2 separate regions of the Homo sapiens genome follow, and region 1 is linked to region 2. Evidence: fine-mapped expression QTL. A gene starts in region 2. The other region holds a variant in brackets. All regions are shown on one strand. Distances are from middle to middle.

Region 1 (12,175 bases), 140 kb after region 2:
GGCAGGTCAGACTTTTGGTTCTATTCAGGCCTTTAAGTGATTGGATGAGGATCATCTACTGGGGAAAGAAATAAGCTTTATTCAGTGTACTGATTCAAATGTTAATCTCATCCAAAACCATGCTCACAGACACACCCAGCATAATGTTTGACCAAGTATCTGGGCACCTTGTGGTTCAGTCAAATTAACACATATTAACTACCTTAGCAAGATGAAAAGCAGTGAATGCAGGATGGTGGTTGAAATTTTAAATACGTTGGTTATATAGTCTCATTGAAAAAGGAACATTTGAGTGAAGACTTGAAGGGGTGGTGGAATAAACCATTTATTTGCTTATTGCCTGTCTCCCTCTATCAGAATGAAAGCTTCATGAAGCGAGAGACTTAATTTTTATCTGTTATATCCCTAGTGCCTGGTGCAGGGTAAGTACTCAAAAATATTTGTTGAGTGAATAAGTAATGATTGAGGATGGGGACTGGTTTGTATCTGGTTATATCTCTTGTCCTTAGCACAGTACCTGGCACATCCTAAGCCATCCAAAAGAGTTGGTTATATGATTGTCTTTGAATTCTATGACTGTTTATAATATACAGTAAACTTCACTGAAGACACTGACTCACTTGTTTTGTTTGATATTGTGGCCCCAGCACTGCAGCACTTAGAACAGTGCCTAGAAAATACATAATAGTTAGTGAAAAATTGTTATTGACCAAATGGGCACAGATAAGGAGACTGAGGCTCAGAAATGTTAAATGAGTTGAAAATAGTCTCACAGCCAGGAAGCAACAAAGCATGGGGCCTAACTTTGTCTTTTTAATTCTCAAATTACAATATTTCATCTATATCAAACTGCTTTAAAAATTGTCCTGGGGTCTCTCGTTTGGCCATGGCCTTTCTTTCACCTACACCATCTCTCTTCCTTGTCCACTCCAGGCTGTGTTGTGTGGTCATGTCTCCCTGAGTGACAAGCAGGCTGGTTATGTGGAGTTGTCAGCACACAAGCCTCCCAGAGGATGGCCTTCTCCTCCAGGTGCCACAGTGTCAGGGGACACTCTCTTCCATTAGCACAAGCAGAAGGTAATGCAACCTTTTGGTGGCCATCGACTTTGTCAGACAATAGTGCCGTTCAGTTTGAAAGACTCCACTGGGAAGTCGCAGACTTTTAAAACTAATTTGGTGTTTATTCAACTTTGCAATCACTTCTATGTACTATCTGTGTTTCACACACCATGAAACGGTGCTATACTGTGCAATTGAATTAGTTGTACAGTGACTCAAAGGCATTAAACAATGACTTTGATATTTTAAGTACTGACTAGGAGGGATTTTTAATTCCTTCCTCATAATGAAAACAGCAAAAAAAATCCAGTTACACAACCCTGGAACACTTACTCTCTTTTCTCTTCTGGGTGGACCCCAGTGAGACAGAAAAAACCTCCGAGCACTTAATTTGCTTCATGGCAGGAGAAAAATTAAACAAGCATAGACGTGCAACCTTAATGACACCCAGCAACACTAGAATAACAGTTCCCAGCTTCTAAAACCTGATATTTAGTATAATGGGTAAATCTGGTGGGAGCTTTTCAGTGCTGCTGAGTTTGAAAAAACAGCTACTTTGTGAGGAGGGGTGGGGGTAGAGGCAGGGAGAGTGTCTTGCTTGTGCTCACTTGTTAGGAGGGTCTCAGTGCAGAAGCCAAGCCAGAGGGGTGCAGGCAAAATACAGCACTGGCAGGAGAGTCCCTGAAGGCTGTGACCCTTCTGCAGACAACAGCATCACTATGCTAGGCACAAATGTGTCAGTTCTGCCAGAAACAACATGGGACTTTTCATACAGTGCCTTTCTGGAGATGGTACTGACAGAAAGGAAGAAGAGAGGGGGAAAAACAATGCAACAAAAAACGAAAACCATAGCAAGTGAATTAGTACCATGAAACTATGAGCATTAACTGGTTATAGTTCAGGGCAAAGCACCTCAGTGATGATTCACATCTGACAATAAATACAGGAATAGCTGTTGAAAGCTAGTTTGATTTTCACAAAGAGGTTTAAACAAACTTTCGTTTGTTCATTAGTCTTAAGCAACACATTTATGGCAGGGGATGCATTAAACCTAACATATGTCTGTGACCAAGGTATTTGGTGGTTTTAAAGATGAAGACACAAAGCCGTGCATATAGTTTATGCGGAGCGGCCTTGAACTACCCGTAATGGAGTGAGATACAGTTATTATGTATTAATGCTGTGAATCTTCATCCAGAGAGAGAAAACAAACAGGCGAGAAGGAATGCAGCATCTTTGAAGATAAAGACTTAGAGGGCCCCATTCTGCAATTGGTATTGAGTTTGCATAAACTCATTTTGTTGTTGTTGTTGCTGCATAATTTTTAAAATGCAACTGGTTTAAATCTGTTCCCTGAGGTAATTTACGCTAAAGCAGCATTCTAACACCATAAATTCCCTGCTTATGGCAATCTCTGGTTGGGTGTCAGGTCGGTGTAAGTTACTGAGCAAATGGCTGCTTCAAAATTTTTAGGGTAATTGCCTCTATAACTCGTTTAGCATAGGCCTTGTCAGGAAATCTCTAATTGTAATTGATGCCTCTGCTTCCTTTTCTCCTCCTGCTTTTTAACCACATTGTTGTACTAAAAGCTTCACTCTCCAGTGCAGAAGAGCATGGGGCTTTTCATCTTCTGTAGCACTCGGATTTTGTTATTATTAAAGCCTTCCCTCATGAAAACGTGATGTCACCCCCGATGGGGTCCAGAAGGTGGTGGTTGGTTGGGTGTACCTCTGCCCCAGCCCAATCTCTACCCTTGCCTAGGAAACCTTCAGTACAGAGAAGGTAGATCTTGATGGGGTTGAGATAAAATGAAGAGCAAGTTACCACTACTCCAATTCTAAGTTTTGTATGAATGCTGGGTTGGCTGTTGATTTCTACCAGAATGGTGTGAGCAAAGTCAACAGCATATTTTTCTCTCTTCTCTCATCTCATGTGTATGGGCATGATGCCTTGGTAGGAAGGGTATCATTGGAATTGTATATTACAATATTCATGGCCAGGAGCTTCTGTTGATTTGTGTCTACATACGGGGATTTTTCATGAAATTGCATAAAGCATGTAAAGAATCAACTCCAAAATCCAATTTGTTAATTATCTTGCTTAAAATATACTTCAATTATATCACATTTGACATCGTATGTCATTGATAGTAGACGGAAATAACACTTAAAATCAATAAGTGTTTTTAATTTATTTTACTTATTATGCTTGTCATAATATTTTGACATGGAGTGCTGACATGTCAACGATGCTGTTATCAGGAGGTAAGGCAATGGCATTAAACTGTCTCACCATCTGTGCTACTGTTTCAGCATAAAGTGGGCCCATGGGGAAAATATAGCTAAAATCTCCAATGAAGTGTCTGCTTATGAAGTAAATACAGGTCATCACTGAATAAAGCAGCCTGAGCTCAAAACAAAACCTGAGGGAAAAAAATCCACACTCTAATCTATTATCTTTTCTCCCAAAGGATTCAACAATAAGAGCACTAAAAATATGCGAGTGCTGTCTGTGTGCCAGACTTGTGAAAAGTGTTCCACATATTTTATCTCATCTCCTCTAAGAGGTGAGGTACTTGCACATGGCAAAACCCAGCTCTGAATGAAAGTCTGTGTGATTCCATGCCTGGATCTATTCTCAGAAACCAAAGCCATCACTATTCTATATGGTTTGGATAGAAAATGGATTCTGACTTCTGGATCCTCTCCTGGCTATTACAATCCACATCGCAGGGGGGTGAGGCACCCCCCGCGATATGGGGAGTCATAGCAACCCCCTCTCCCC[C/A]CCTGGCTGTCACAATCCACATCGCAGGTGTGTGAGGCAACCCCTGCGATATGGGGAGTAATAGGAACCCCCTCCACCTGCCCCGGCTATCACGATCCACATCTCAGGGGGGTGAGGCACCCCCCGCAATAAGGGGAGTAATAGCAACGATCTCTCCACCCCTAGCTATTACGATCCACGGTGGACTCATAGCCTGTTTACGATATTGTGAGTATATATCAACTCCCCCTCTGGAAATTATGAACTATTTCACAGACCTGTGTACACTCATCTGTATTGGGAGTAATATCAACCTCTTTCTCCCTGAATATTGAGAACAGTATCACAGGAGTGTTTCTACTCCCTGCGATGTTGGGTGTCATATCCTCCTCTCCCACGTTGAAATTAGAAACAATATCACTGGGGGCGTGTACACCTTCTGTGATATTTAAAGTAATATCCTCTTCCCTCCAGGATCATGGGAATAATATCCCTGGGGGGTGTACACTTTCTGCGATATATGTAGTAACATCATCCCCTCCGCCTTGGAATATTATTAAGGACCATTTCACGCGGGGGTGTATAACTCTTGCGATATTGGGAATATTATTATCCTCTTTCCCCCCCTGCATATTTGGAAAAATTTGAGGGTTTTAACATCTCGACATCATGAGATTCTACCTTTAGGTCTTTTCTTCCGTTCTGTCCTCCAAATCGGCCTCTTCCGAGTGTGTTGACCAGGGCCAGCCAGGCAGAAGGCTGGTTTCGCTCAAAGAGGATCCTCTCGCCCATCCTGGAACTTCAGGCCTGTTTCGGTTGGACCTGCAGAGAAGCCTTAGGGGCCACTTCGTTCGGCATCCCAGGGGGCAGGTGCGCGGTACAGGGAAGAAGAGGGTTTGACTGTTGTTCTCAACCCCCGGCACCAAACCTCCACCCTGGTGCGCGCCCCTCCAGGCTCCTGCTGGTCTCAGTCGCCGGTAGTTAGGTCTCCTGTCAGCCTGAGCTCCCGAGACACCCAGCCCCGGAAGGACACGTAGGGGAAACCAGCTACTCACTTCGGTCTTGTCCGCAAGGGATCCCTTTCTGACGGGAAAGAAAGGCGGCGAGTCCGGTCCTGTTGAGTAAGCGGAAGAGAGATCAAGGGGAAGAGAAGAAAAATCCTGTGAGGTTTCAAGATCTAAAGTTACCATGAAGTCGACCTAACCTCGTCTGGAGGTCCTCCTGTGGCTGGCGAAGGTGAGTCGAGTCCCCGTCTTCAGTTTGTCAAAGTGGACAAAGCCTACGACAATGGCCAGTACCAGCTACTAGGCATTCCCAGTCTTTCCAGTTGGTGGTACTGGAGCTTCCCTACCCAGGATTTCCGTGGATTCCAAGGGTACAACTGAACAGCTTTTGTTGTTCCAACTGCTCTTATTTGAAGAAAGGGCCGATCTGTTGAGAAGTACATAGGAAAACCACTTTGGTAAGAGTAGTATAGCAACTGTTGTTGAGACTGTCACATTCCCCCCACCTCCTCCTCCCTCCTCCTAGAAATGTTCAATGAAAATTAATCCCCACGACGGGCCTGTTGTACTTTCAATGTACAATTGGCAGAACCTAAGGGAACTCTAGGAGGTTCCGGGATGAATATGGGAAGTATGACACAGTCATTTTTATTTACACATGCATTCCAAAAACACATTGAATAAACACATCCAGTTCACCTGTGCCACACTTACAAAGATGGGAAAAGAGGAACTACATACAAACAAGTGAAGATGTAATTGAATGGCTTTTAAATATCTGCTGAAGGTTTCCACTGAAGGTCTTCTACCAGTGTCTTCTCTTTCTCTAAAATAAGACATTCAAGTGCCAGACCCTGAAATAAGTTTTCTGGTTCCAGCTTGTTCTTTCCCATTCTGTATCTTTGCCCCTCCACTCTCTTCTTACATATGCAGGAAAGGTCAGCTCTCCCTCAGTTTCTAATTTGCAACATCCCACATGAAGAATGCAATGACCAGCATCAAAAATTAGACACCCTCCATGGGACTCCATCTCTGTCTTAGTTGGAGCTAATGTACCATAAACTGGGTAGCTGATCCACAACAGACATTTCTCACAGTTCTGGAGTTTGGAAGTCTAAGGTCAAGGTGCCAGCATGGTAGGGTTATGGTGAGGAACCTCTTCCTGGTCATAGACTGCCATCTTCCTACTGTATCTGCAGGGGGCTGAAAGAGGCTGAGAGAGCTCTCTAGTGTCCCTTTTATAGGGGCACTAATCCCACTCAGGAGGACTCCACCCTCTGGATCTAATTACCTCCCAAAGGCCCCTCCTCCTAATTTTAACACTTTCCAGGGGTGGACAGGGGAAGGTTAGGGTTTCAACCAAGGCATTTTGGGGGGACACAAATATTAGGTCTCCTGTGATCTTTCAAGAAGAAGAAGAAATTATAAATGACCCAAAGCTTTGTACATTTCACAGTTAGAAATAAAGAAAACTTTTCCTAAGATTTTGAAAGGCCTGAAATGTGAGCTTCCTCCCCATCAACCCCACTACCAAAATCTGGACTCTGTGCTGAGTGTTGTGGACTTTTTGTGTGTTCCTCCTCCCTGCAGACAACTGAAGATTTATTCTCTCCAGAGGGTAGAAGAGAGGATCTATTGGGAGAACCCGCCCCCAATATTTCAACGTAGGTTCTTTCTATTTTCCATAAGTGTCAGCCAGCTGAGAAATAAAGACAGACAGTACAAAGGGAGGAATTTTACAGGTGGGGTGCCAGGGGTGACATCACATATTAGTAGGACTGTGATGCCCACCTGAGTCTCCGACCAGCAAGTTTTCATTAAGGGTTTCAAAAGGAGAGGGTGTGTAAGAACAGAGAGTAGGTACAAAGATCACATGCTTCAAATAGCAAAAAGCAGAACCACTGATAAGGGTCTAACAAAGATCACATGCTTCTGAGGGAACAGGGCAAAGGGCAAAACCAGAACCACTGATAAGGGTCCAACAAAGATCACAAGGCAAACGGCAAAGGCAGAACCACTGATAAGGGTCAATGTTCAGTGGTGCATGTATTGTCTTGATTAACATCTTAAACAACAGAAAACAGGGTTGAGAGCAGAGAACTGGTCTGACCACAAATTTACCAGGGCTGAGTTTTCCCAACCCTAGTAAGCTTGAGGGTTCTGCAGGAGACCAGGGCTTATCTCAGTCCTTATCTCAACTGCACAAGACAGACATTCCCAGAGTGGCCGTTCATAGACTTCCCCCCAGAGATGCATTCTCTTCCCAGAGTATTAATATTAATATTCCTTGCTAGGAAAAGAATTTAGTGATATGTTGACTACTTGCATGTTCGTTTATAGGCCCTCTGCAAGAAGAAAAATATGACTCTTTTTGCCCGACCCCACAGGCAGTCAGAAATTATGGTTGTCTTCCCTTGTTTCACAAAAATCGCTATTATTCTGTTCTTTTTCAAGGTGCACTGATTTCATGTTGTTCAAACACGTGTTTTACAATCAATTTGTACAGTTAACACAATTATCACAGTGGTCCTGAGGTGAGGTATATCCTCAGTTTATGAAGATAACAGGATTAAGAGATTAAAGTAAAGAGAGGCAAAAGAAATTATAAAAGTATTATTTGAGAACTGGTAAATGTCCATATTAAGGTGAAATCTTTACAATTTATGTTCCTCTGCCTTGGCTGCAGCCGGTCCCTCCACTTGGGGTCCCTGACTTCCCGTAACAATGATCCTTGGCCCCAAGGGGGCAATCAGCATAGATGTGCAAGTACTTGTATCCCACACTGAAATGAGAGGTATGAAGTGACAGCATATCTTGATCTATGTGATGGTTACATGAGTTATGACCTATTTCAAAGCTTATTATGCTGTGTGAAAAAGAAGAAAACCAGAGGACTTGCACAACCTGAGTTTCAGACTCACTCTAAGCTGTTATAATCAAGGCAGTGTGCAAGTGGCATTGGGAGACACAAATACATCAACAGACTGACTTTGGAGACCTGAAACTGACCCACAGCTATAAGGTTCATAGGTTTTTTGTTTGTTTGTTAATTTCTTTTTGTTTTCTGAGACAGGGACTTACTCTGTCATCCAGGCTAGAGTGCAGTGGCGCGATCTCGGCTCACTGCAATCTCTGCTTCCCAGGCTGAAGCGATCCCCGTGCCTCAGCCTCCCAGGTAGCTCATACTACAGGCACATATTAGTAGACATGAGGTTTCTCCATGTTGCCCAGACTGGTCTCCAACTCCTGGGCTCAAGTGATCCACAGGCCTCAGTCTCTCATAGTGCTGGGATTACAGTCATGAGCCACCATGACTGGCCATAGGTTTTCAATAAAAGCAGTTTAATGGGGCAAAGGAAATAGTTTCAATTAATTGCCTTTCATAAAGGAGAAGGGGTAGACGAACAAGGTTATTTCTCCCTCACACTACACTTGAAAGTAACTTGAGACACATTATAGACCAAAATATAAAAGCCAAAGATATAAAGCATTTCGAGGATACTTTGTGACTTGTTGGTAGACAGAGATTTATTAAATAGGGCACAGAAAAAAATGTATAAAGGAAAGGCTTGATACATTAGACTTCATCAAATATTAGCCATATCTTCTCATCAAAAGAGGCAACAAAGAAAGTGAAGAAATGAGACAGCCTCAGACAGGGAGAAAATAGTCACGAAACTTATCTGACCCCCAAACCCTGTAACTATAAAGTATGCTGAGATCTTCTTACCTGGTAATTAAAACAACAAGGACAACAACAACAACAACAACAACAACAACAACAAACCAATCAACCCAAGTATGCTAGATGGGTAAAAGACTTGAACAGATACATAAGAATAAAAGGTACACACATGGTCAACAAAGCATATACAATATGTTTAGCTCTCAGGAAAATGGAAATCAAAACCACATTGAGACACCACTATAACTCCCAGTAGCATGGCTAAATTTATAAGGAGAGGAAACACCCAATCTTGGAGAAGATGAAGAACAACCACAACTCTCACACGTCATTGCTGGAAATGTAAAATGACACAACTACTTTGGGCCAAGTTTTGTGAGTTTTTATGATCTTGCACATATCTCACTCTTTGGTACCAGCAATTAGGCAACTAGGTTTTCCCCAAGAGACACGAAAACAGGTGCCCTCAAAATCTCTTGTGGGAAGAAAGTTCAAAGCCGGCTTATTCAGAATACCCAATACCGGTTTATTCAGAATAGCCAATACCCAGACGCTCATTATCGGGGTGGAGGTGGGGCGAGAATGGCAAACAAACTGTGCTGTCTCTTTGCAATGGAATACTACTCAGCAATGAAAGAGGAATGAACTTCTGCTACACTCAGCAATGGATAGAGCCAGAGACATTATGCAGAGAGAAAGAAGCATGTAGAACAGAGTAGATGCAACGTGATTCCATCTGCGTGAAGTTCTACAAGCAAAGGTAAAGTGAAAACAATCTGGAGAGTGATTGTTCACAAATAAGGCAGAGGACAATGATAATGATTTTTATAATTCTAGTGATTACGTTATTGATTGAGTAGTCACTAAATCCAGGCCCGTCTGACAACAGCAGTGTAAGGCAGAGTTCCCAAAGAGGCCCAACCTTCCACAGAAAAATGTTGAGGCACATAACATTTAAGATAGTTAACCAAGGTCAGGCAAGGGCCGACATAGATTTCTAATACAGAACCTGGGTTCTTGGACATAGATTAGACTGGACCTGTCCACTTCTCTGTTTCAGATGTCTCTGGGATTCTCAGCTGCATCAGAGGAGAGACAGAAGGACAGAGAAGGAGACAGAGGGAGAGAGGAGTAGGGAAGAAATGGAGGGAGGCACAGGGCCCATAGCTGTGAAACAGCAGAGAAGTAACTCTTGCCAGTGTATTTACAGTATACAGAAGTTTTCTGGTGATCAGGACATTAGCAGATGCTAAGTTTGCTGTGGTCAGGAGATGAATTTGATATGCCATAGATTTAGAAATTAAAACGAAACCCTAAAGTTATTGGAAGAGAATGTAGCAGAATACATTTCTGCCTTAAGAGATAACAGGAAAAAATAAAGCAAAGTAGAATTTCACCAAAGTTATCAACTTCTGCTCATCAAGAATCACCATGAGAAAGTGAGAAGGTGAGCCACAGACTGGGAGAAGATAATTGCACTGTGTTTACCTGAAAAAAAAAAGGCTCAAATTTTGAATATAGAGAGTACTTTTTACAAATCAGTAATAAAAAGCAAAGCCAATTGAATTAGGGAAAATGCTTCAAAGCCTGTCTTCTCAAAGAAGGATTGCTAAACGGTGAAAAGGCATTAGAAAATATGCTCAACAGCATTACTCATTAAAGGAAACACAAATTGAAGCCACGATGTGGTACCGTTTTACATCCACCAGAACAGGTGTATTTAAAAAACAGTAAACACCACGCGCTGTCAAGGATGTCCAGCCAGTGGAACTCTCCTTGCTGGTGAGAAAGCATTCTGGAAGAAACCATTTGGCCGTTTCTAATAAAGTTAATATTACACCTACCCTATGATCCAACAATTCCAGTACTTGGTATTCCTCAAGGGAAATGAATGCACGTGTCCACAAAAAGACCTATACAAGAAGAATTTTCGTTCATCTTGTCCAGCAAGTGGCATCGGTTTCCTATCAGCAGGAGTCTGAACACTTCTGGCCCTAGCCTCTTGGTATCAGAGTCGCCAAGGAAATACAAGGCAGTCAGAGACTGGACGGGAGAACAACACATTATTCATACAGAGAGGAGACAGAGCGGGGTGTGGGCTCCGCTTCAGTCTTGGGCGTTGGTCCCCCATGGCCAGCAGGTCCCTCCATTTGGCCTGCACACACAGCCTCTTGAGAAGCAGAAGAAAGGACCCCCGCTTCCTCCCCTCAGTGGGGGGCAGATACAGCAGCTGGCCAGGTGCCAGTTGATGCACATGCTTAAGTGGAACAAAGGGGTACACACCAAGTCTGATCGGGGGAAAGATACTCCCACACAAGGAGGTGAGTCCAGCACAGGCTGTGATGACTCCTTATCTCTCAGGAAGGAAGTGCTCCAGGCCCAAGGCCCATTCCTACGTGGCAGAGTGGAGGTGGAAAGACCCCTGGCACCAGATTGCCTTTCCTCACACTTTGCTGTTGGCATACAAACTTGGTGACGGGCACAGAGACAAGCCATTGTAGGCCACAACAAAGAGTTTGGAGTTTAAAGTCATTAAAAGCTTCTTGTCGTTTCGTGTGTAACAGCCCCAGTGACTGGAAAACAGGTTCTGAGCACACCATTGCCTTCGTGTAAGCCACCACCAACAGGGCTGACTGGGTTATTTGCTCTGTGAGGCTCAGAGACAGGACGGTGCACGTCCAGAGTTTCCCTTGGACTCCTCCCCAGGTTAGTGAGCTGTGAGGTCTCTTTTCCTTACCCCGACGTGCCCCCAGTGACCGGAAGAACGGTTCTGAGCACACCATTGCCTTCGTGTAAGCCACCAACAGGGCCGACTGGGTTATTTGCTGCGTGAGGCTCAGAAACAGGAGGGAGCACGTCCAGGGTTTCCCTTGGATTCCTCGCCAAGTTAGTAAGGTGTGAGGTCTCTTTTCCTTCCCCTGACGCGCCTGGTTGCGGGAGCAAAAGGGAAGAGCTGACAGCCTAGACTAACGACATTGCCGTGACTCGGATTCGAACCGAGGTTGCTGCGGCCACAACGCAGAGTACTAACCACTATACGATCACGGCGAGCCACAGGCTAAGCCGCGATGGCGGAGCTTGCTCTAGCCCTTTTGACGTCAATGGATTTCGATTATTAGGCGGATTCGTTCCCAGACAGCCACAGGGGACTCGCGCTTTTCTTTCATGCCCGCTCTGCTTTTCCCTCCCTTCCTCCCAATCTTCATACGTGATGAGAACAATTCTCATCTCCTCCACTCCAGCCTGGGCCTCCCTGCACCAGCCTCTCTCGGGAGGTCTCTCTGTCCTGGTCCGCACCTCCTCTGCTTCTGTGGGGCCTCTCCGTATTTCTGCTTTTCACCCCTCCTCTCTCCCGCCCCACCGACCGAGGCCGAGGTGAGCGAGGGGAGCGCAAGCAGCAGTAGAGAATCGGGTGAAGGCGGAGCCAAGAAGGGGAAGAGCCATCACTAGAGCCCACGGGGCGTTCTGCTTGCTTCCCCTGGGACCCACGCGGCTCAGGCCCAGGGAGTCGCGGACCCGGGCGTTTCCTGGGATGCTGGGTCTGACGCCTGCGAGGGTCAGGACGGGGCGAAGGCCATTCCGCTGCCCTTCCAGCTTCGGAATCACCCAATGCACGGGTTTCAACCGTAGCCAGCAAGATGCGCCTCTCAGGTTTTCCGAGGCT
Region 2 (16,484 bases):
GTATAAACACCTGAATTAATAATGATAGCCCTGGGATGGTCCACATAAAACGAATAACATTGGTTGCTTCAAGAGAGGAAGAGCGAGCCAGGCACAGTGGCTCATGCCTGTAATCCAAGCACTTTGGGAGGCCAAGGCTGACAGATCATTTGAGCTCAGGAGTTTGAGACTAGCCTGGGCAACTTGGTGAGACCCTGTCTCTACACAAAATACAAGCAAAATTAGCTGGTAGTCCCAAACACCTGTAGTCCCAGCTGTGTGGGAGGCTGAGGTGGGAGGATTGCTTGAGCCCAGAAGGTTGAGAGGCTGCAGTGAGCCATGATCATGCCACTGCACTTCAGCCTGGATGACAGAGCAAGATCCTGTCAAAAAAAAAAAAAAAAGAGAGAGAGAGAAAGAAAGACTCTTGACTGGTGGCTACTGGTGGGAAAGAGGTTTTTACTACATCCCCAATTGGACCTTTTTATTTTAAAGTATGTGAAGATAAATAAATGACACAAAAGAGTGCATACCATCCCATTTATTTGAAATTCCAGAAAAGGCAAAATTAATCTGTGGTGAAAAAATCATAACAGCAGTTCCTTCTAACAGGATATTGACTGGGAAGGCACACAAGAGAAATTTCTGGGTGCTAAAAATGGTCTGTCTTGATAGGGGTAGGAATTACAAAAAATTCAGTTAACATTTCAATGAATGTAAATTTTATCTTAAAAACTATAAAAATAATTTAAAATTTAAAATCTAGTAGCTAACACCTAGTTGAGCGCTCAGTGTCTATGGGTATTGGCCAAAGCTATACATACACAATTTTGTTTAGTCCTCATACTGTCTTCACGAGGTAGGTATTATTATCATAACCCCCTTGCATATGAAGAAGCCCAAATTTAGTAAATACTAAATAACTTTCCTTAATTTATACCCCCTGGAAAATGGGGGAAGAGCTTTGACTACCGTCAGTCAAATGCCATAAGTTATTAAATATTAGACCCTATAGCACTTCTCTGAAATTGTAATATTTTTGGTATATATATATATAACTCATCTACTAGATCAAGAGCTTCACAATGATTGAAATCATAGTTTGCTTTTTGTTTGAGGTTTATGGGTTTATTTTATGTTATTATTTTAAAGACTGGGTCTTGGCTGGGCACGGTGGCTCACGCCTGTAATCCCAGCACTTTGGGAGGCCAAGGTGGGTGGATCACTTGAGGTTAGGAGTTCGAGACCAGCCTGGCCAACATGGTGAAACACCATCTCTACTAAAAATGCAAAATTAGCTGAGTGTGGTGGCGCATGCCTGTAATCCCAGTTACTTGGGAGGCTGAGGCAGGAGAATCACTTGAACCCGGGAGGTGGAGGTTGCAGTGAGGCAAGCTTGTGCCACTGAACTCCAGCCTGGGCCACAGAGTAAGACTCCATTTCAGAAAAAAAAAAAAAAAAAAAAAAAAAGACTGAGTCTCACTATGTTGCCCAGGCTGCACTTGGACTGTTGAATTCAAGCCATCCTCCTGCCTAGGCGTCTTGAGTAGCTGGGACTACAGGCACACACTATCACGCCCAATATTTTTGTCTTAAGTTTCTAAGGAGTCCCAACACTGCACAGTAGCTGTTCAATACATTTTGAGTGAATGATTAAAAACAAGCTTGGTGTTGATTTTATTGGTACAATTTATATTTACATATGTAATGTTTATATTATATGCTTTTTATATATTTATATGTGTGTATGTATATAATTGGCACCAACGTAGCATTGCTGTGCTTAAGTGCCTGAGATGTATCTCAAATGAATAGACCTGAGGAGAGAAGCTTGTGTCATTAGCTCTGACCCTGCAGCACTAATCCTGGTTTACCCCTTTATTTCACTCACCCTGAGCACATCAATTAATTTGGTGAAAGAGCTTACACTTTAAGTGTAAGCTTAACATCTCACTGAAATAGTTCATTCCAAAGAAAGAGCTAATTCTAACCTCTCACAAGTGCTTGAGCATTTGCATAAGTGAAATTTCACTGTGTGAGTTTCACCCAACACCACCTCTGCTCCAGCTCCTGCTACTCTGCTGCTCATACTGTGGAACTCCACAGGTGGAGTAGAAGATCATCAGAGAGAGTTTTATTTGCAGTAAATTTGGTGTGCAACAGGCCAAGCAACGAGGAGTCAAGGTGAGGCAGAAGAACAGCAGAGGGAAGTGGAAGTTGGATAAAGGGTGAACTGAGTAGGAGCGGAAGCAGGATAAAGAGGTGGGTGAGCAAGAAGCAAGATAAGCAGAAGTTGAGCAGCGAAAACAAAAGTGAGATGGAGTAGTGAGTAAAAGTTTATGGCTGGCAGGATCCAGAACAAACCAGTAAAAGGCATGCATATGACAGAGAAAAAGTAGCCTTAAAATGACCCCGTATGATAATCAGCTCATTAAAGCTAATGCATATGGACTGCATATCATGGGTGTACTTAAAATTATGGGATGGAGGTGATGCGGAAGCACACAGGGGCCAAGTAACTAAGCAACCCACCTATCAATCAGAAGGCACATGCTGGGTAGAGATTAGGCAGCCCCAGGAAGAGGAGAAAAAAGAAAAAAAAAAAAACATGTAAAAAGACCCAAAGCCCAAAGTTCACCAAACTGACGCTGATCTCATTTTGCAGAAGTCAGCCCGTTCTCCCCTCTCTGAGAGTGTTACTGTGCTTAATAAGTCTCTTGCTGCTTTGCTACATGTGTGTGTGTCACTTCCAATTCTTTGTTAAAGACACCAAGAACCTGGGACTTCACAACACCAGCCGGTAACAAAGGTATGTAAGCTTGGGAGGGAGGAAAGAAAGAAGGGAGCAAGAGGAGATTCAGACATGAGATGCATTCACCCTATGAGTTGAACCCTGGTCTCCAGCGTGGGAGTTGACAATTCTATTACTGAACCATCAATGCTCCGTTTGGTATAACCTCTCATAGTTTTTTTTTTTTTTTTCCTTAAAGATAATCTCTAGTGCTATGGGCAGGCATGAGGGGGCAGGGAGGATGGAGGTGGGAAAGTTCTATAATAGGCTGACACAGATATTTTTGGAAAACAGAGCTAACAAAGCAACAGGCACTTGAAGCAAAGGCTTGCCGTAAACCTTCCACAGTTTGCCAAGAGAAGAAATTCTGTAGTGAAATTTTCACTTTCTCTCTTGTGTAGATCTCTGTAAGACACAAAAGTTGGATGACAGTCGTTTTGATTCTTGGACTTTACTAGAGACTCCAAAGACGCATCTGAGGAGAAAAGCTCTGGGTCCCTGGGATGACTGTGCCACTCGACATAGCCTCCTGGAGTGGCCAAAGAGAGTGTGGATAAGAAAAGAAATATTGGAGTGAACTTTCACTCACTCCCACTTCTGTAGGTTTCTTAAAATATATGGGTTTAGAAGCAAGATACTTGGCGTTTTCAAATGACTCAAAAGAGATGTAGATGAAGAGAAGTTCGGTCATCCCACAGATCTTCCGGAGTAACCTGGACACATCCCTAAATCTCTAGCTCCTGGGTCTTCGAAAGCCTGTTTGCCTCAGGGTTGGGAGGAAAGGGTTTGGAAAGTACCAAGGCAAGGGTTGGCAAAAAGATTACCTCATCAGTGAGGAAATGAAATTTCCAGAAGTTTTCGCCAGATCTGGGACCAGAGACAAATGCTGGATGAATTTCCTATGCAAACCTCTTTTAGAACCACCGCTTCAAAGGCCGTCCAGAGACTTCAAATTAGATCTGGTGAAACTGCTCCCGGTAGGGGATTGGTAGTTCAGCGGTAGAGGTTTTTGTCTCCCACGCCGGCGACTCCGGTACGACTCCCGGCCATGCAGGACTTCTTACCCTTCCGGCAGGAAGGGCTACTACGTTTCTACCCAACGAAGTTATTATATTATACAGGCTGTACTGCATTTATGGACCTTGGTCGTGGCAGCTAGAAGCTAACCTGAGGGGCGTGCCACCTCTGGAGCATTCTCTGTGCTCGAACTAATAATCCCGGAATTTACGTTCCTGTGCTCGAAGCCTGTCCTTGAAAGTGGGGAGTGTTTCCGGTGGGTTGCTGCAGTTTTAAATACTGGGAATTAAAACCTTTGCTACTTTCATCTAGTCTCCCGGCAAACCCCTGGGTAACCCAAAGCCCATCAGAGGGATTCGCGTGCTGGGCTTTCCGCTACGTTAGGCCACGTCTCACTATGGAGCGAGGATCAAGAAGGTCCGGGAAGGAGAGAAGCTGCGGGGTCCAGGGAGACTCTTCGGCGGTTGGTCGGAGAGGTTTCAGCGGCCCAAGGAAAAGGGAAGCGTGTGGGAATCTATCCGCGTAGAGATGAGGGGCGCGGCGGAGACAGTCCCACGCAGAGGTATGCCCAAACACCGAGTTACTTAACCTCCTCAACCACCTTGGCATCCGCGCCTTCCGTGGGCCCGTCGGTCTTCCGGGAGAGATTCTGTGTCCCTGGTATTGTGTGTCAACAGGTGTTAGCCTGATAGTTATATTTTTAATGAGAGAAAACGAACTACAGAATTTGCGAGTTTTGCTTTTTTTCTGGTTTTGCTTTATACCTCTTGGATTCTCCTTCCAAAGGATTCCAATCTGAGGGGCATTGAGGTGTGACTATGGTAGACAAGGGGTGGTGAATTTTCATCCAAAAATCTTTGGCGGATTCCCTTGCTCTCCCGCTCCCCAGTCTAAGAGCAGTTTAAAACAGAAGATCAGAAACATTTGGAGAGTGTTTTTTTCTCTGCGTTCTAATGATAAACTTGATTTATTCAATTCCAAAAGTTTCCTTATTCTGAGGTTGTCTTTCCATATTTTGAGTATAAAACCATGGCCATACTATATGTTGGACCCACGAAGGTTCTTCTCTTCACTTGTTTATTTGTAAAGTCTCTTTGTAATCTGAGAATTTCTTGAGTAAACTGGGAACTGTTACACATAATTCTGTGTTTTTGAGCATTCTTTGTAAACAGGAATCAGGATTGGGGGTGGGGAGGGAGGGAGGAGTGGGAGTCCTGATTTGTGTAACGGAAAATCATGGATTACTTATGTGATGGAGCAAAGGTTTAAAAACTCTTAGCGTCCCCGGATTTCCCCTTTTACTGTTTGCTGAAGAAAATTCTGTCCTTGACTCCCTTCCTTACCCTCTCCTGGCCTGTGAGAAGCTTCCGCCCTATTCAAGTTATTTCCTCCTCCCCTCCCCGCCCCACTCCCCCAGGCAGCCCCCTTCTGTTTTTCAGTGAAGCCGCTGGAGGAAAGTCGGGTTTGTGAGAAGACCCACACAGGCAAGGACAGCAGGAGAACAGTGACATAGTTACACTCTTGTCACCAGCACTGTCATTAAGAAGTTGTAAAAAGACAAAGACAACAGAGGAGAGCGGAGAATAAAATCTCCGTTTCAGCTATTCCAGGATGTTGTGCCAATTGTCCCGTGTCCTTGATAGGAAGTAGTAAGGAGCTAGGGACATTTTTCCTGAAGGCTTCCATTGCTGGCAAAATCTCATTAAAGGTGTCTACATTGATAGGTTGGCCACAGGATGGATACAAGAACAGGCTCTGGCTTACCTCTGCCAAGATATATGTGTAAGAATACTCTCTGCAACATTAATTTTTATTGTAAAATAGCAGAATAATTTTATTATTCAATCATTATATAATGTTCAAATGTATGTGACTTTATTTGGACAATGAAAAATGCAGTTGTTAAAAATAGACAATACAGATGATTCAGATGATGTTACTGATGAAAATAACAGATGTCAATTACTGAGCATTTATGGCACTCTTACATACATTAACTTATTTAAAGTTCAGAACAACCAAGGAAATGAGCAACCTGTGGCGGGCGTGAGAGGTTCTGTGGCACAAAAGGAAGATAGGCATTCAAAGAACACCAGGATAGAAGAGCCGCAGTAGGCCGGGCGCGGAGGCTCACGCCTGTAATCCCAGCACTTTGGGAGGCCGAGGCGGGCGGATCAAGAGGCCAGGAGATCGAGACCATCCTGGCTAACAGGGTGAAACCCCGTCTCAACTAAAAATACAAAAAATTAGCCGGGCGTGGTGGCACGCGCCTGTAGTCCCAGCTATTCGGGAGGCTGAGGCAGGAGAATCGCTTCAACCCGGGAGGCGGAGGTTGCAGTAAGCCGAGATCGCGCCACTGCACTCCAGCCTGGGCGACAGAGCGAGATTCGGTCCCCAAAGAGAAGAAGAAGACCCGCAGTAGGAGGAAGAGAGAGGAAGTGGAGTCGGCCAGCTGGGATGCTGGAAGCCACTGGATAGCTCAGGCTGAGAGAGGGCGCTGTGCTCCGCAAGCCTCCCTGCAACCGCAGGCCTCGGGCCGCCTTCCTCCAGGAAGACGCTCCAGACTTCTGGTATCCGTTGAGATCTAGTTTCCCTTGAGACGCTGCAAAGCGCATCGTCCTTGAGCATTTCTCCTCTCCCCAAGACCCTCCGAAGGAAGGATGAGCGGACGGAAGATTCACACCGAAGTGGTCGAGCGCCCAGATCCCCGGCTTCCCCGGGAGCATTTCCCAAGTTTCTTTCATGGGTAAGAGTGGGCCCGGCAGGATAATGCCTCCGGTTCTATGAGGAGCAGTGGGGGAGATGCCCACGTGGCCACCTCTGTGGGCTACACGACCCAGGCCTTCCAGGAGGAGCGAGGAGTCCTGGGCCCGGGTCAGCGGTGCCAAAAGAAGCAGCAAGGCAAGGGGTCCCCTCCTACCTCAGGATCTCTGTCCTACTGGGGTTAGGAGACGTTCATCCAACTCCCTCTCCAAGTGTTGGAGAGGAGGCTAGGTCTTTCCCACGAGCTGGGGAGGAAGAGGTGGCAGAGGCGGAAGAGGAAGCCGGCTGAGATGTGTGAAGCAGCTCTGGCTATAACCGGTAGGGAGAGGGCGCGCGGGACCCAGGAGCCTCCGTGCGGAGCCAGGCCTCAGGAGCAGCCGCCTTGCTCCTGGAAGGGGTGCCTCCCTCCATCTTCTGTCCAAAGACTGTAGGGAGACCTTCTCGCCTGGTGGGAAAGCGACGTCTCCCATGCTTTCCCACCACGCAGGCCTTGTGTCCCTTTTCCTGCTAGTGTCTGACCGCCAGCCTGCGGGGGCTGCGGCTGCCGCGGTTCTACGCTGGGTGGAGGCTGCCCGCCCGCTAGCCAAGAGCCGCGCTAGGAGGCAAGAGTCGGGAAGTCGTGTGCAGGCCGGGAGGAGTCCCAAGCTCTGGGTCAGGGCTTTTTTTGCCAATAGCCAAATTCAACGTGTAAAAGACAGAGAGCTCACATCTGTCTGTTCGTGAGCTTCAGTCGGAACAACAAGGAAGGCCCTCAAGATCCCTAGGAGGGTGGCGGAAGGGTCTCTAGCGGCGATATCCGCGTCGGGGGCGGTGAGCCAAGGACTGTCAGGAGCCTGCGTGAACCCAGCCCCCGGGTAGCGCAAACACCACCGCAGACAAGCGCCCCGCGTGTAGGGAAATCGCAGGGGTCAGAGCAGCTGGAGTGTGGTGGACTAGCCTCAACCAGGGAGAGCTCCCTTCTTGACCACGGTCTGTCCCTCGCCAGGTAAGAGGAGACGAGTGTCAGTACAGCCTCCTCTCCCCTAGCCAGACGCTCAGGGTCACCACCTTCCCCTCTGCTCGCCCGTCGCCATTCTTCCAACCACTCGCTGCCAAAGATTCCACCAACAGTCACCCACAGGACAACCCAGGCCTCCTTTCAGCAGAGGCTCCCGCCCCGCAGCCACCGCGCCCTCTCACCCCCGCAGTTCTGCCCGCCGCCTCTGCCCAGTCTGTGCACTTCACCTCCCTCGCTCCCGCTCTCCCCTGAGCTTTACAGTGGACACAGGGTTCGTCCCAACCCTTCTTGGGAGTACTGAATGGAAAAGGGGGAGGGTGCACAATTGCTTGGTAGAGTGTAGACAGACATTGCGGGATTTGACTGTGGTACTATCCCTTTGATGTCCTAGTGATTTTTACACCTGCCTTCTGCTTAGGGCACCGGCCACAGTTTTCCATTAGTGCCTACTCCACCTGCTGTCGTTGTTGGGTAAGCGAACATCGCCCTCCTGTACCACCCAGTCAATAAATGGGCGGTCCTGGAGGACCTCACCCGCCGCTCACCCCCCTCCCAACCTCGCGGCCATCGCCTCCTGTCGCCTCTTCCGAAGGCCTAAGAAGCATGTTAGCTGCGAACTGAGGTGAGGAGGCTCAGCTGACCGCCTGTGTCAGCTGACGACGTGTGCCGCACACAAACGCCACGACTTGGCTTGGCCTCTCTCTCTCTTAGTTATTTGCAGCTCAGCCCAATCGGCGCCTCTGGGATGGCGGAGGCGGCAAAGATGGTGGGCTTCTTGGGTACACCTCCAGGAGAGCTGCCATCTCTGCACGGTGGTGTACACCTGAGCGAGACGCTCAGTCGCTCTCTAAAGCCCCTTCTGCGAATGGTGGACACGGAGATAAATAAGAGGGTGTGTCATGAGAGGCCGTCCACCAGGACTTGCCCTCCTTCGCCAGGGTTTGCACCTTGCAGGGAGACTCTTCTGCCTCTGGCTCTTGGAGCAGGCCGGCTGACAGCGGAGTAAAGAAAGATTACTGCGGGTGGGCAGTCAGTGCAAAACAACTCCCTGACCGGTAATCGAACCCGGGATGCGGTGGTGAAAGGACTGAATCACAGCCACTACACCAGCACGGGGGCACGGGAGAGTCTTTCTCAACCTTATTGCCATTTAAGTGACTGTTTCTGAGTGCGCTGGGAGGACTTGGGCCTTGTGGGGGTCGCTGGTCGCTCCTGGAGTCGTCTCACAAGGCCTTTCCCTCCCTCCTTTCTCCAAAAGAGGAGCCCGCAGGCGACACACCCAGCACTCTGCGAGGCCCACCAAGGCCCTGATTCCCGAGTCCTGGAGCGAGTTGCAGCGCCCTGGCTGCAGCTGACCACTGACCTAGAGATGTGCCTTTGCGAAGTGGCAGCGCATGGAGAAACAGTAGCGGGTCGCTGGGGCCAGAGCCGCCCACCGGGTAGCCAGGAGCAGGCCGGAGCGAGGAGGCTCCCGGGGTGAGACCGGGGCACCCTGAACATCATAAAGGACTCAGACCTTGGCATTCCCGACGTCATAAAGGACTCACACGGATGCGGAAACCGAGACGGGCTGGATGGAAAACTCTTTCCAGACAGACTCCGGGGCCCTCAACTGGTCTCCGACCTTCCCCTGCAACCTGCGACACCTGCCATTTTCCCATCTTAGGCTCCAGAAGCAGAATCAAGTGGGATGTCTTGGAAGAAAAACAAACAAAAGGCCCACTAGGTGGAGTGAAATGGATCAGGAGCAATTATGTTCAATTTCACCTTTAAGTTTTCTCAAAAGGAGGAGCATTAAGAATCAGCCACCTTAGTACATACTTAAAGGTAAATATTACATTTAAGAAAATCCTTGTTATCTTAATGTGGCACTGAGAAAATACTATCAAGTACAGCACGTGGACTAAGTTAGAACATTAAATACACAGGATCTCTTGATAGAATTATCCTCAGACTTTCCAGTTTTAATCTTCTAGATTTACTGAAACCTGATCCTGTCCCCGCTGATGAAACATCAGAGGAATGGGATCCTGTAGGTGAAGATCATCAGCTTATAAAATCCTGTTGCCATCAATGGGGGTAGCAGGAAAATGATGAAGATTGGTTAAGGGGCCAGTGGACTCAGCATTGAAATGAATCATGGACTTGAAGCCAAAAGACTCAGTTTGTGTCCCAGCTCTCTCAAGCAAAGCCCCCAAGTCCCAGTTTCCTCATCTATAAAAAATAATAAAAATACTTAATGGACAAAGTTGTGTGGGAATCAAATGAGATAAAGTATGCGCTGCATATGCCCTAAAGTCTTATTTAAATAAAGGCATTCTTTTCATCTGAGAAATTGAAGAAAAAGATGCCCTGAACAAGAAAGACAGGAGAAAAGATTTTTTTTTTTTTTAATGAAGGATAAAATGATGAAATCCCCCCAGGTATTGCTACAGAAAGGCCTTACCCATGAGCTGTAGGCATATATCCGGTCCTAAGGTCCATTTTGGAGTAGCCCAGCACTCAGTCTGAAAGATTGGACACTGAGAAATATGTGCATCCCATTTTTCTAACTAGCAGCATTTTGATCCTGTCTTATTATCCATACCCAGGCTAGCACACATGATTTTTTCTGCTTGCACTTCAGGAGAAGATAGTCATTGGACAAAAGGTGGGTCATTCTCACGTTGACCAAGTTTCTGTTCCAGTATCACCCTCCCAGGTAGGCCTTTATTCACTCTAAATAGATCACACTGTCTAAAATAGCTACCTTTCCTGCACACAGTCTCTTACTATGCCATTTACTGTCAAAGCTCTTCTCACTCCCTGATATGATTTTGCATGTTGATTTGCTTGTTCATTGCATGTTCCCTCACTACAATGTAAATGTCTTGCCAGTTTTGATCACTACCATATCCCTAAGGCCTAAGAATGTTCAGTACATACTAGGTGCTCAATAAGTACCTTTTTTTTTTATAAGTGAATGAATGAATTCTATTTTTGTCTTATTCCATTGACATTTTCCTGTCTTAGCTGCCTTGGACAGCTCTGAAAGTTCTTCTGCTATTTTGTACACTATTGTCTTTCTCTGTCATTTGAATCTTTTCCTTACTTAGTTTGGGTTCCTCCAATAGTAGAGCTTGAGACAAAGGTTTGGATACCAGTAGTGTATTTAGAAGGTGATCCGAGGATTGGAGAGAACAGGGAGAGTAAGAAGAGAAACAAAGAAGAACCAACAAAAAAGTGCCTTACCTGGGTTGCTGATGTGGGCAGCAGGCACTCAATTTCATCTGGGTTTCCTGAGAGATGTGCAGAATACCTCCCAAAATACAGAAGATGGAACATTAATTCACACAAACTGAAAAGTTTGAAAAAAAAATTAGTCTTTGCCCTTGAGAAAACTTTACTCTGAGTGAAAATGAAAACAAGAAATGCTTGTGACTTATTCATTGTATCAAAGGGAATTAAATTTTATTGAGTACCAAACATGAGCCAGGGACTGTACCTGGCAAATTATATATATTGTCTTATTTCATTATGGCAACAGGAGCTGCCATGTATCAGGCAGCTACAATTTAACCAGGTTCTTCACATGCATGCTCTCACCAGTTCTTACAACTAGTCAATATGAGTTTTTATTTCCATTTAAGAGATGAGAAAAGTTGAGACTTGGGGAAAAGAAATAGCTTGGCCTAGGTAACACCATCAATTCATAGCAGATCTTTCTGACTCTATAGCTTGTCCTATAGAGAAACAATTACATGTAAGGAAAATAAAAGGCAATATAAATTTAAGTGAGTGACTACATGACACTTTCTTGTGAAGAGTTATAAGAATTCAGAGAACGCAATGTGCAACATGAGGACCATGGTCAATAATATTATATTGCACACTGGAAATTTGCTAAGATAGTAGATTTTAGGTACTTGTACTGTAAAAAAAGAAAGGTAACTATGTGAGATGGTGAATATGTTAACTTGCTTGACTGTAGTAATCATTTCACTATACATACGTATATCAAAACATCATGTTGTATACTTTAAATTTATATGATATAATAATATAAAAAAATAGAATTCAGAGAAGTGAATGACTGTTGTGAGCTACATTTAAATTTAACAAGATTTTATTAAGAAAATTAGGTTTTTTAAAATTTTTAAGAGAAAAGTGGGGAGGAGAAAATGGATTCCTCTAGGCCAAGGAAACAGCTGGAGAGAAAGGCATGAAGATGAGGTAACTGGCTTCATGGAACCTGAATTATTTTTCATCAAAGAGCTCAACCCCCCATATTATCTTTCATAAATAAGTAGTGTGCCATGGAATTATGGAACATGAAAGGTATGGATTTAGAACATGATCTAGGTTAAAGAAAAAAGAGGAAGAAAACTAAAAGAAAGAAGAAAATCCAGATTGTTGGGATGATTCTGAGGCCCTAGAACCTTAGAAACTCTAAACTCTTTCAAAGTGTATTTGAAGAGACATATATTCAGTGTGTGCAGTCTGACAACAGTGGAATGCCAATAACATTTAATTTCCTGGACTTCTAAACTTCTTAACCTGTTGTGCTGCTGGAATGGGACTGTAAATCAAAATATGCTAAATTGTATGGGGAACATGTGTATTTAGTCATTCCAAACTGCCCAGTGATTTTTTAAAACACTCCTCACAATAGTATTTATGCTGGTCTTGTTTTTCATAAGTCTTTCTTCTCAACCATGCTGCAACTGGTTAATATAGGCATCAAACACAGCACACAAGAAGGAAGAATGCAGAAAAGAAATTCAGAAATGGATGAGAAAGGCCAAAGTATCCCTGACATCTCTCCCATCCCAACTGTTCTAAATGTTCTTCCATTTTCAAACACTACAACAACAACAAAAAATTGGAATATTGCTTTGGGTCTAGTAAATCATTAGCAAATTAAGAACCTGTTTTTAATAACATTTAACTTGTAAATAATGCATTAATTGACTAGCCTGAATGTTAGTTTGAGCATTTGAAACTCTGCTACTAAATTTGTAATGAAAGAAATGTGCTGCAACAGTAGGCTATATGGTGAATATAACAGATTAAATATGACAGTTGATATTTGTGAAAATGGGGTTATAATTAGAGGACACCTGCAGCTCTTTTCCAACCAAAACAACAGAAATTAAACTTGCATAAATTGTGTGTGTGTGTGTGTATTGCATTTTCTATTGGCATGTTTCTTTTGTTATCCTTGAGTCTTGTGTTAGGTTTTATCCCCCGTTTTTCAGGTCATATGTTAAGCAAGCAACAAGTGGCCTTTTGCTGGACACACTTTATTGGATCTCAAAATGACACATTTTTGGGAGGAAAAGAAAAAAAGGACACAGAGATCTTTTTTCCTAGGAGTTAGGAGTTACTAAAATTCATGAGTGATAGCCCAGCATATTATAACTGCTCAGAATTAGAGGAAGCCATGTGAAAAGGAACCAGTAGGGATTTCAGTCTCAACTGCCTTGCCTCCAACTATCAAGTAGGATTTCTCAGACGAAAACATGAAGAATGTGGCACCCTGCCAGCTATACATTATTAAAATTATGCATGGCAGTGAGTCAGGTAGAGAAGTTGCTAGACATAGGGATTAAACCAAAGAGAAACTAAATATTTGCAATGACTAATAATTAACAAAGTGCTGTCATTTCGCTAATTCATTGTTTCTCATTCATTCAACAAATATAGATAAGCACCTTGCAGAGGCTATACTAAACTAGGCCCTGGGATACACAGCTGAATAAGACACAAATCCTATGCCCTCAAAAGGCTGAAAATCTGGTTTGGGAAAATATCTGTAAATCAAAAGAAAGGCAGATCATGCAAGTCAGAGAAAGAGATGAAATACTAAGAAGGAAATCTTGGCACATCTGTCAAATGCAACAGGGAAGTTAAGAAAGATAAAGACAGAAGCATTTCTGTTGAATTTGTCAATCAAAGTTCATTAGTGACCTTGGCAGAAACTATTTTAGTGGAGTGTTGGGAACAGAAACCAGATTACAGTGAGCTACAGGATGAATAAGAAAGAGAATGTAGAAAAGTGAGTGTAGACTGCTCTTTTCAGAAGTCTGACTATGAGAGACTAGAGACAGAGAAAGAGAGTGAGGAAGTTGGGGGTGGTGGGGGAGAGAAAGTATGTAAAGAGTTGGTTTTCAAAGGCCTGAGCAAGTTGCGTATGCTGAGTAGTGGTCACAGCCGTTGCACACAGAGAATCTTGGCATATTAACATACATGAGTGCACATCAGTTATACATTTTTTCCCTATCAGAAGTTGAAATTCCCTTTTAATATTCCAAGTATTAAATTCTCATTTAATATGCTAATTAGCCTGCATTTTACAACAGATTGTATTAGAGCCTGGATACACATCCAACTCGATTCCATGTATGGAGCCGTAGTTGATTTGGTCAATAACTTGCATTGTTCTGCATGAGAACTTCCACAATTTGCTACCTCATTCTAATAGGGTTTGCTTGAATTATATGAAATCACCACCTTTATTGGTCAAAACCAGCTGAATATTGGCAATTTCATGTGGTTCAACCTAATAGTCTGCAGGGGTCTGGGGAGATCATAGCATGTGAATATAATGTTGAATGAGACATAGGAAGAAAGAAACAAGATAGCTGGGACAAAGGGTATTGAATGAGTAGAAAAAAAGTAGTAATCTTTTTGTTTGGGTTAGGTGTGTGTTCCCAAGGGAAATAATTTTTGAGCATGTAGCTTGAAAGTAATAATACCACTTTTAGGTAGTACAAATGGCTCAGGGGATCAATTGGGATTTAGGGAGCGGGGCTTTTACCTGCAATCTGTCCAATTTAGTCAGACTAACTTGCAATTTTTACACTGTTAAACATCTTATAAATCTGAGACCAACAGATCAAAGAAAAGCTCTTTCAATTGAGTGTCTGGGTAACTTGTGGCAAATTTTTTATCCCCGTTGTAATGTGATTCCTCCATCTCTAAAGTGAAGGCATGGATTACCCACTCATTCTCAATCCAATGTGAAAGGTCCAGAATTCTGTGTCAGAGTTAAGAGAGTCCTGGTGCAGTCAGCAAGGGAAAGTAATTTTTCCAAACTGCCTGTGCTAAAAATAAACCCAGGGTAGTCTCAGGGGAGAGCTACCCAGTCCCTTTCACGGACAGTAAATTCACTGTGGTGGGAGGTGAAGATGGACTGAAAACAAATACCTGAAGAAAGAAAAACATCCTAATGCAGGCACCAGTGGTGAGTTGATGGGAACTGAGCTACCACTGGGAATGCATCACCTGAGCATTTTCTCCAGAGCAGAGTTGTTGGACAAATCTATGAGGAGAAATTCCCACAGCAGGGCACAATCTGGGCTCTGGCTAAGTTCTTGGAATGTCATTTGTCAGCTGTCAGAATCCTATATTCATAAAGGGAGAGGAAAAGTCTCACTAAAATGCAACTAAAGAACACACAGCAGCAGAACCTGGTCTCTTCTGTGTTAACAGAACAAACATGAAAATAGTTAAGCCAACATACTTGGAATTTGTGTCAATCATGATACTTTCATTGCTCGTCTTGAGTTCTCATGTCTATCATGCCACGGTGAGGCAATCACTCAGAACAACCCATGGCATTTTGCAGAGCACCAAAGAAGAAGAAGTGGTGAATCATGGGCCTGAGACTTGGTTACACAGTGTCTTAGAGAAATATCCCAGCTCCTTCTCAAGCTACAAAATTCCTCCTGCTAGGCCAAGAATAGATATGGAATTTCCTATCATCTCTGAATTTTTTATTACTGAGTTGCAAGCAGAGCTCTTTCTCCTATTGTATTTATATTATCATAAAATTGATCTTGAGTATGTAGAACTTAAGAAAGTCTCCAAAGACAGATCTGGATGGGCCTCTGTCTTCCAGCTTATAAGATGTATTTTGTAAAATTTAGCATAGCTGCTTTTATTATTATAATACCTAAAATGTATGTGATTAAATACATGAACTGCCTCCCTGAAGGTAAGACAGCTTCTAAATTCTAAAGCTAAATAATCTAGCCCACAGGGCCAGACATAAAATTGCACCCAGAAATTCATACCAAATGTCAAGTCACTTTGGGGTTACTCCTGAGGGCTCAATGCTGATCATGGTTAGGAAGAGGTAATTTGCCCCACTGTCTTGCTTGAGGATGATTTTTTACTGCCACACATGGAAAAAGTTGCAGCTAATTATATGATTGTTCCAAATTATGAGTTCTCCTCCCTAAAAGAAGCTTATAATTTCCCATCCCATTGACATCAAGCTTGGTCATGTGACTTGCTTTGGCCATTGAAATGTGAGCAAAAGTGACAATTACCACTTCCCAGTGGAAACTGAGAGCCATCTTGTGGCTCCACAATTGCTCTTCTCCCTCTGCCCAAAGAATGGCATGACCTAAATAGGGACTCAATTTCAGAATGAAGATATGTAGAGCTGCAACTGACCTACAGCCAACCTGTAACAAGAGAGAGAAATAAATCCAGATGGTTGTAAGCCACTGAGAAATGGTGATTGTTTGTTACCAGAGTATAACATAGAAAAAGCTATCCAATACAACAGTAAAACAAACCCATCAGGTACAGGAAGTGGATCTGCTCCCTGAAACCCATAAACGACCACTCTAGCTGTATCTTAGCACAAATAAGGAAGAGGACCAGAAAAGAAAGGAAGAAAGGAGTTAGGGAAAGAAATCTCAATATTTCCCAAGGAAATATTGGTGGTGTTCTAGAAGAAGTGGCTATGTTACAACAGTTGCATCTTAGGACATTTATTCACTTCCAGGCTTTCATCTCCTCTCAGTGCTGCAAGGAATATCCTGCTCTAAGAACACCAGTTTGAAAAGGACTGGCCATAGATGACTTTGGAAGACCAAAGAGTTCTGTATTGACCTCAGTTACGTCCTTAATACTCTCCAGCAAACATACAATATTTCCGTAGTC

Alleles and levels. Positions count from the first base shown, and alleles are read on the strand shown. Sizes are in standard deviations (SD) of each study's normalised expression.
For the expression in prefrontal cortex of the gene that starts at base 9,092 in region 2, A is the high allele of the variant in region 1 and C is the other (large effect, 1.0 SD a copy in BrainSeq).

The links. PIP is the estimated chance that this variant, and not a neighbour inherited with it, causes the effect.
Region 1: its variant is fine-mapped to the expression of LINC02805 in prefrontal cortex (BrainSeq, PIP 0.95).

The regions. Positions count from the first base shown.
Region 1 is chr1:148,291,247-148,303,421 of GRCh38, forward strand. LINC02806 (long intergenic non-protein coding RNA 2806) reads left to right here. Exons shown (of 2, transcript NR_187239.1): 2 at 1-615. It overlaps LOC105371225 (a long non-coding RNA gene), which reads right to left. Exons shown (of 5, transcript XR_007066561.1): 1 at 10,356-12,175; 2 at 5,027-5,253; 3 at 4,878-4,936; 4 at 4,504-4,667; 5 at 1-58. It overlaps TRH-GTG1-4 (tRNA-His (anticodon GTG) 1-4), which reads right to left and starts at 11,559; the gene lies at 11,488-11,559. RefSeq lists an enhancer at 10,722-11,578. The variant C/A (reference allele first, on the strand shown) is at 3,844.
Region 2 is chr1:148,153,619-148,170,102 of GRCh38, forward strand. LINC02805 (long intergenic non-protein coding RNA 2805) reads left to right here and starts at 9,092. Exons shown (of 2, transcript NR_135559.1): 1 at 9,092-9,374; 2 at 9,524-9,795. It overlaps LOC105371227 (a long non-coding RNA gene), which reads left to right and starts at 2,047. Exons shown (of 2, transcript XR_922068.4): 1 at 2,047-2,788; 2 at 3,172-4,928.